Linked DNA regions of Homo sapiens: region 2 is reported to be linked to region 1. Evidence: microRNA targets listed by miRTarBase, many of them from high-throughput screens and not tested one by one. Region 1 holds a microRNA gene; the other region holds the end of a gene's coding sequence.
What was found. Region 1 holds the annotated microRNA hsa-miR-3186-5p (CAGGCGUCUGUCUACGUGGCUU, at 2,101-2,122, shown strand). A microRNA usually pairs through its seed, bases 2 to 8, with sites in the 3' UTR of a target mRNA and lowers its output. Matches are read on the target gene's strand: a 7mer-m8 pairs with bases 2 to 8, a 7mer-A1 pairs with bases 2 to 7 and ends in A, and an 8mer does both.

Region 2: the mRNA of SLC25A15 is a reported target of hsa-miR-3186-5p. Seed matches in the 3' UTR shown: 7mer-A1 at 2,225-2,231.

The regions. Positions count from the first base shown.
Region 1 is chr17:81,449,123-81,453,273 of GRCh38, reverse strand. It overlaps MIR3186 (microRNA 3186), which reads left to right and starts at 2,086; the gene lies at 2,086-2,170. BAHCC1 (BAH domain and coiled-coil containing 1) reads right to left here. Exons shown (of 28, transcript NM_001377448.1): 12 at 1,404-1,606; 13 at 1,167-1,303; 14 at 423-551.
Region 2 is chr13:40,809,003-40,813,002 of GRCh38, forward strand. It overlaps SLC25A15 (solute carrier family 25 member 15), which reads left to right. Exons shown (of 7, transcript NM_014252.4): 7 at 541-3,458. The coding sequence ends at 665. MIR621 (microRNA 621) reads left to right here and starts at 1,764; the gene lies at 1,764-1,859. It also overlaps the pseudogene TPTE2P5.

The sequences.
Region 1 (4,151 bases):
ATGGATAATAACATCGCGCCGGCAGCCGTGAGCAGCTCCACAGCGTGACCAACGACTTTATACAGTGCAGATAAAGAGGCCTGCACGCAACACCGCCTCACACTCCAGGGGGGCCGGGCGGGGACGATGCCACAGCCAGGTGTGCAGAGCCGGCGTGGCTGGGCCTGGGGGCCGTGACTTCCAGAGGGGGACCCGGGCCAGGGTGGTGCTGGGAGCTGCCAGAAGGGCAAAGCCTGTCTGGAGCAGGGCTCTGTCTGCTGGTCACTCTCGATGGTCTAGGAAGGGCAGGGCCAGGCCTTCAGAGTAGGTGTGAAGGGGCACCAGCAGCCTGGAAGCCTCAGGGGAGCCTGGACCCTGCTCCCCAGCCTCGAGGGCCCAGGGCCGGCCACACGCGCCCTGCCATGCCAGTGCCCAGGACTCACTTGACTTTCTTGCCATCGCTCCTGGGGAGCGGCCCCGTGGGACGTGGGGCAGGCAGCGAGCTTGAGTGTTTGCGCTTCCTCGGCCGGCCAGGCCCCCGCCGTGCAGGGCTCCGTGAACTCTCGTCTCTCCTGGGGGCCGCAGGGGGGATGGTCAGAGGCTCATGCACAACCCAGCTCCCCGACAAGGTTCCAGCCGAGGGCATTGGCCTTCGAGGGCTACTGGGTGTGGGGAAAGATGCGGCCCAGACTCGGCCTGGGGAGCCTGACCCCTCACGCAGAGGGCAAGGCCAGCCAGGGGCCCCCGCCGCCCCCACCTCCTACCATCCACACACACTGGTCAGGTGGTGCCCCTGCCCTTGTTGCAACTGCGGGGTGTCCCCTCCCCCAGAGAATCCCCCAACTTCTGCCCTGGCCCCACAGCACCCCCAGTCCTCCCTACTCCCCCTTCTGCCACTGTCCCCTCACCCGCCACCCTGCGGCCAGCCTCCTGCCACACCAGGCTCTGACAAGCGGCTCTTCCACAGACCCCTGGCCCTGCCACTTGGTCTCGCTGCTGGCCGAATGCCTCCCTCCTTGGGCCCCACTGCCTCTGGGGGGCCTCCCCGATGGACCCTGGTGTCTGCCCACAGGTAGGGGGCAGAGCCCAATCCTGGCCTGTTCCCACATCGGCCCCAGCACTGTGGGCGCCTCCCGGGGGTGGGGGTGCTGCGACCCTCCCAGGCCCCCCCGCCACGCCAGGCGTACTCATGGTCGTGCTTGCGCTGCAGGCGGGCCAGCTCCCGCTGCTTCTCCTTGTAGCGCCGCTGCAGCTCCGCCAGCCGCACGCGCATCCCCACCTCCTGCGTGTCCAGCCGGTCGATGGCGGCCTTCAGGGGGCACACCTGGTGGGGGGGGCACAGGGGCCTGTGAGCCGGGCCAGGGCCCAGGCTGGGGCTCTGTGGCAACGCACTGGGCGACGTGGGCACTGGGACCTCCACTCACAGGCTTGGTCTTGGGGGTCCAGGTGTCCTTGCGCTGCAGGATCTGCATGCGGGGGGTGAGCCTGGGGCCGCTGCAGGGGTTGGCTGTGGGCGGCTGCGCTGGGGCAGTGGAGCTGTCCAGGCCAGCGGCCTCCACCAGGGACCAGGCTGTGGCCAGCGTGGCCAGGTGCTGCAGGTTGAAGGCTAGCACGTCCTCTTCCTCCTCTGTGCGGCATGGGAAGGTCAGCATGGGCATAACTGGGCACACACTGCCCCTCACAGGCTCTTGATGTCAGCCCTGGCCCCCTGAAGCCACCCAGCCTTGAAGACCGGGATGAGGGTCAGGAGACCGGGAAGAGTGAGGTGGGCACCAGGGCTGACACCCAGCACCCCTGTTTTGCTGCATGCTGGGGAGACACTCCCTTGGTGGTAAGGCAGGGCCAGCTGGGAGGACCCACGGGGCAGGGTCCTCTGTGTCACAGAGCAAGACAGGCCCCAAAGCATCGAAGTAAAAGCAATCTGCTCGTTACAGCTTCTAACAGAAACGCCTGTGTGTCCCCCCACCGGGGGGGCCCTGCTTCGAACGGCAGCCCTGGGAAGGGATACTCTGGGGCCCTCAGAGACACAGGCAGTGCTACGAGAGCCCACTGAGGCCTCGTGCACGGAAGCTGCTGAAGTTCAACCGAGTTGAATGCTGTGGCTCAAGCCTGCGGTTCCAACAGGCGTCTGTCTACGTGGCTTCAACCAAGTTCAAAGTCACGCGGAGAGATGGCTTTGGAACCAGGGGCTTCAGCACCTGGGCATCACTCCATCCAGGTGGTGGAGGCTGGCGTCCCCCAGCAGCTAAGACCTGCCATTGCCTGTCCATCTGCCCATCAGTCCTTCCGTCCACTCGCCTGTGTGGACACCTAAAGAGCAATGGCTGCAGGGAGGCCAGTGGTCAGTGCAGAGGGAGGGGACAAGTCCCCTCGATACCTTTAAATTTGAGACAGGGTCTCGCTTTATTGCCTGGGCTGGAGTGTGGTGGCTCCATCACGGCTCACTGCAACCTCGAACTCCTGGGCTCCAGTACCCTCCCACCTCAGCTTCCTGGGTAGCTGGGACCCCAGGCCCTCGATTCCTTGTGAGGAGGGCAGCGGGCAGGGGTTTCTGGATGCAGTCTCATCTGCTGTGACCCTTCTCAGAGGAGCAGCCACCATTCCTCCATCCTCCCTCAGAGCACCAAATCCCTGCCCCTGCCCGGTCTCTGAACACAGTGCTGGGCTCTGCCAAGCCCTTTCCAGCACGCTCCAGCCCTGGGGCAGGCAGGAGGGCCATGGGCTGAACACAGGTCAGGAGGAAGGGGCTGCCAGGGCCGCATCCTCTGGGACCTCAACCTGGGGGCAGGGACAGGGGAGCTACCCTCACAGTGACCGCAGGAACAGCGGCAGCCCAACAGCCCAGGCAGTGGCCTGGGGAAGGGATGGCCCATCTTGGGGTCAGAGCATGGGCCAGCAGAGGCTGGCGTCCATGCAGGGTCGGGCCCAGGTTGGGGACTCAGGGCCTGAGTAGGGGAAGCCAGCCCTGAGGGCTGACCACAGAGACCAGGAACGGGGTCCCCATGGGCTGATCCCACAAGGACATCCAGCAGGAGACAGGAGCCAGACACCTTGCGGTGGGGGTGGGTGGTGATGGCCAGGAAGGCAGGAGAACTGCGGAACCCCTGTGGGGTGAGTAGAGGTGCTGGTATCCCCTGGGAAAGCCCAGGAGCAACGATAACCTCACAGCAACGAGCACCCCAAACCTAGTCTCTGCCTCAGAACCCCACGCTCCACTTAACGGACCGGGGCTCCCCAGAGATATGGCTCATCTCAGCCAGAAGCAGGAGTGCGGGAGAACCCCATCCACGATGGGACAAATCAGCGCCTGACAGCTGGGGCACGCACCTGAGATTCCACCAAAGGCACTGACCTGAGCGCCCAGGCTGGGGCACTCCATGGTGCGTGGCTGCTTCCCTCCTCAAGTATGGGGAGGGCCAGGGGGCCACAAGCCCAGACCAAGGGTTGATCCATCCCCAGAAGTCATTACTAAGAAGCCAGGAGGTGCTCGGAGGGGCAGATGCTGGGGTGCAAAGCTCTGGACCGAGACCACAGATCTGATGGGGACCAAGGGAACACTCAGGCTGCTGGGTCCAGGATCCGCAGGGAATGGGAGGGGGAGAGAGGGCCGAGGGGGGGTGGGCTGAGCAGCTGCTGCCATCAGCAGCCGGGGAGGCACATCTGCAGGCCCCTTCCACTGAAGGCCCCAGGTCTCCTGGGGTCACTGCAGTTGGCCAGAAGCCCCTCTGTGCCTCCCCTGCCCTTGCAGGCTACAGGCGTGTGGCTCCCACGTGGCCTCACCCAGATGGTTCTGCCAGTCCTGGGGGCTCTATGCTTGCCCGGCCCCGATGGTGGGGGCTTTTTCTCCACTTCCCCCTCTGCAAATCTTGCTGTCTGGCACAGGACAAAACCAACCTCCTAATTAATTTCAATTGAAGTGATCGCTACACTTGTAGGGATCAGCTCTGAGCCCAGCAGCTGCAGAGACCTGCCCATTAACGGGGACAAGGGGAGGGCAGGGGCAGGGGTGGGGGCCCAGGGGGGGACCATGAGGTGGAGACCCGGAGGGCAGAGCTGGCCCTGACTCCACTTCTGCACACCCTGGGGATTGGGACACCTGGCCTGGCCGGAGTGTGACGACATCCATGCTGGGTTAAGCCACATGGCCCACCACCCGGGACACGTGGTCTACA
Region 2 (4,000 bases), not on the chromosome of region 1:
CACAGAAACTTTGTGTCCCAAATAGAGGACAGATACCTTGTCTGTTACTCATAGTAATCCTCCCTTACATTTGTATAACATGTAAAGTTTTACAAAGTACTTACACCTCCCTTATCTAATTCAATCTTCATAACCACCCTGGGCAGTACTAATACTATACACAGGTCTCCAACTTCAAGGTTGGTGTTCCTGCCACTGCCCAGGTGAAGCTGCAAAGCTGCTGCCACCTCTATCTCCATGGTTGCCTCTGTCTGGCCATCTCAGGCCTCAGCTCTGCCCCATCCATATACTAAGAGTTAACCAAGCGTGGAATTGGGGTATGTTACCTGAGCATCAGTCAGTTTTGCCAGGAGACCTGATACTTGTCCTTGTTTCCATTAGTCTATTTAGGAAAAGCTGGGAATGCATCCTTCTATGACTTGTTGGTTTTTAGCACTGTTGTCTGGGTTTGCATGTGTAAATATACCTATGCTATGCAGCTGCGTGGGTATCCCCAAAGGAGGGATTGTTGCAGTCTTTGACCGCCCTTTTATTTGCTAGGAATAACGGCCTTATATTCTGGACTGAAACCTACTATGATTCGAGCATTCCCTGCCAATGGAGCACTCTTTTTGGCCTACGAATATAGCAGGAAGTTGATGATGAACCAGTTGGAAGCATACTGAAGTGTCTTGGTGGGCCTGAGCCAAGCACAGGTGTTTGAGGACTACAGTTCATCTCAGGGTTTCTTGGAGTACAAGACCAGTGTGAAGTTATTCTGATTTCTTGGGAATTTTGCTTTTTGTCTTCCCTTCTACCCTACATCTTAAACTTTATGGAAGAACCTCTATTTTGCATCATATCATTTCTGTCCATAATTGTACTGAAATAGAAAAGTGACCGCTCTTGCTCTTGGTAAAATATAGAGTGGTCAGTAGCCTTATGCACCTAATTCAAAAGGTGGAATATAGTTCTGTCAGGGCTTTTACGTAAACCTCCACTTGTACATGCAATTTGGACAGTTATGTGTTGAGGGAAATACAGTTTGGTACCTTGTTTATTTCAAATATCAGAAAAACCCAGAGGTGATCATTTCTCATGAAGATGCTTATAAATGGTTGCTTAACCCATTCTAGATGTAGGGTCTGCTTAATGTGTGTACTTTTCTAAGTGGTTGATTATTTTTTATTTTTTTGATACAGAGTCTCACTCTGTCACCCAGACTGGAGTGCAGTGGCACGATCTCGGCTCACTGCAACCTCCGCCTCCTGGGTTCAAGCGATTCTCTCACCTCAGCCTCCTGAGTAGCTGGGATTACAGGTACGCGCCACCATGTCCAGCTAATTTTTTTTGGTATTTTTTGTAGAGACGAGGTTTCACCATGTTGTCCAGGTTGGTCTCGAACTCCTGACCTCAAGTGATCCGCCCACCTCGGCCTCCCAAAGTGCTGGGATTACTGGTGTGAGCCACCATGCCCAGCCAGTGGTTGAATTTTTTAAAAAGTGTTCATGGGGTGCTTGAAAACTAAAATATCCTTCTAGATTTGTAAGACAGTATACCTGCATACTGGTGTGGCTTCCACACTTGAGTAAAAGCTTCAGAGTAGGTATCCTAGATTTCCCCAAGATGCTCTACTCTTAAAATAGTGCCATTCATTTTCTAGGTGGGATCATATTCCACGCTGACTATATTGCTAGGGGTGGCCCAGAGGGTCAGGCCTTTGGGAAATAGCATGGCCTTTACCAGCTTCCCTTCTCTCCCAAAGAACTTCCCTTCTTGGGCTTTAGATTGAGGAAGGGGCTGAGTGGTAGGCGGTGCTGCTGTGCTCTGATGAAGACCCATGTGGCTAGCAACAGCGCTTACCTTTTGTCTCTGGGTCCTGGCCTGGGGCCATCAATCCACTTTGGGCCACTCACTGTCTGCTCTGCCTCCACCAATCAGAAACCCTTCCAAGGAACAGTGAGAGCCAAAGCCAAGAGAAGCCTTCTTCCCTGTTTGGTGATTGTGTGACAGTGGGTGAACCTCTCTCAGAGAGAACTAGAAAGAACTCAGTGCTTGTACTCCACAGTGAGTAATGTCAGGTCTGACCCATCCTGAAGCCTGTCTTGCCATGCTTTTACAGTGTTGGAGGCTTCTACATTTGGTACTTGCAGTCAGTAAGTCTTAATGATGACTGTATATGTGATATGAGTTTATAAAGCAATGGAACATAAGAAAAGCAATTGTAGGCCAGGCGCAGTGGCTCACGCCTATAATCCCAGCACTTTGGGAGGCTGAGGCGGGCGGGTCACAAGGTCAGGAGTTCGAGAACAGCCTGACCAACATGGTGAAACCCCATCTCTACTAAAAATACAAAAATTAGCTGGGCGTGGTGGCACGTGCCTGTAATCCCAGCTACTCAGGAGGCTGAGGCAGGAGAATCGCTTGAACCCGGGAGGCAGAGGTTGCAGTGAACTGAGATTGTGCCACTGCACTCCAGACTGGGTGACACAGCGAGACTTCATCTCAAAAAAAAAAAGAAAAGAAAAGCAATTGTACTTCACTATGCCATATGTATGTATTCACTGACCAAAAATTCACTGACCAACCAACCAAACTCCACACTTCATCTGATCCCCCATAGACTTGGGGATGGACAGCTGTTCTTTGGCCATATGGTATAAGAGGATCATTCTTGTCACTACTTAAGTTAGCCTCATCATTTTGTGCTGCTCCAACACCAGCAGGGTATCTCCCAATAAAGTGTTCCTAAGCAGCCTGTATACTGAGTGCAAGCAGGCTATCAATTTTAATAATAGTCCATACCATGTATGTGTTTCTGTCAGCAGAATGTACATGTTGTACAAAACCTCCAGGTTCCTTAAGCTTTTTGCTGTCCATGAATCCTCTGTGGCAACTGTAATCACAGAGCCAGAAGCCAGAGGGCCAGGGATATGAGAGGCTGACAAACATCAGGGGACATCTGGGGAGGAGATCCCTGTCATGTCTCTTGTGCCATGGAGCTATTATGGCTGGTCTTCCATTTGCTTTTTCTTTAAGTGAAAACCATTTTTCTACTTTGCTTTTCTCTCCATACTTAAATGGTCAGTAGCTACTGAGTGGTGCTTTATCTGAATAGGCCTGGATCGAAGTAAAATAGAAATGGGACTGGCTTTCCACAGGAAGTAAACTGCTTCAGAGCCCACAGTCCCCTGCTCAGTGTCCGGAAAGAAGTCAGTCATCCCTGTTGGCAGTAAATCTTCCCACAGGCCGTCCATTAGAGATTTAACTAGATATGTTCAATAGAAAGAGTCTGAGGCAAGTGGAAATGAGGAACGGAAACTTAGGTTGGGAGAATATTTTTTTTTTATTCATTCTGTTTGCTTAATTCAGAGTACAGTTTGTGCTATTTCATATCTGTACTCCAGGCAGAAATATAACTTGAAAATACTGTGTCTAAAGAAATTTCAGTGTTCTATCATTAAATTATTTACTTAATATTTGAGTCTGATGAATTTCATTGAAGTTCTTTACATCCATGTTGGGAAACAACTGTCAGGAATGTTAAAGAGTTATGTATAGTAGTGTTTCAAGGCAGTGGTTTTATTGCAACAAGCATTGTTTTCTGTCAGCAAGACACCTCATGTAAAATAATTTCACCATAGGTAAGGTGACAAAAATATTTCTATGCTCTGAAGTTATGGAACTTGGCTCACTAGAATTACTTTCTCCCTCCACCTCTTTCCCTCTATTTTAAAAAATAGTTAAACTGTCTGCTTTTAAGTTTTGGATGATTCCATTCCAAGTTACTAAATTCTACTTAAGAAAACAAGTATCTGAAGTGCCAAGATGGCTGACTAGAAGCAGCTAGTGTGCGCAGCCTTCACAAGAGGAGACAGAGTGGTGAGTGAACACAAGCTCTTCAGGTTGATCATCCAGCAGGCTGTGTTGGGATTCATCAGGGAAGCTGTGGTGAGTCATGGAGAGCATAGGGGAGTAAGGAAGGACAGCTGTCCACCTGGGATTGGTGCAGAGCAAGGGG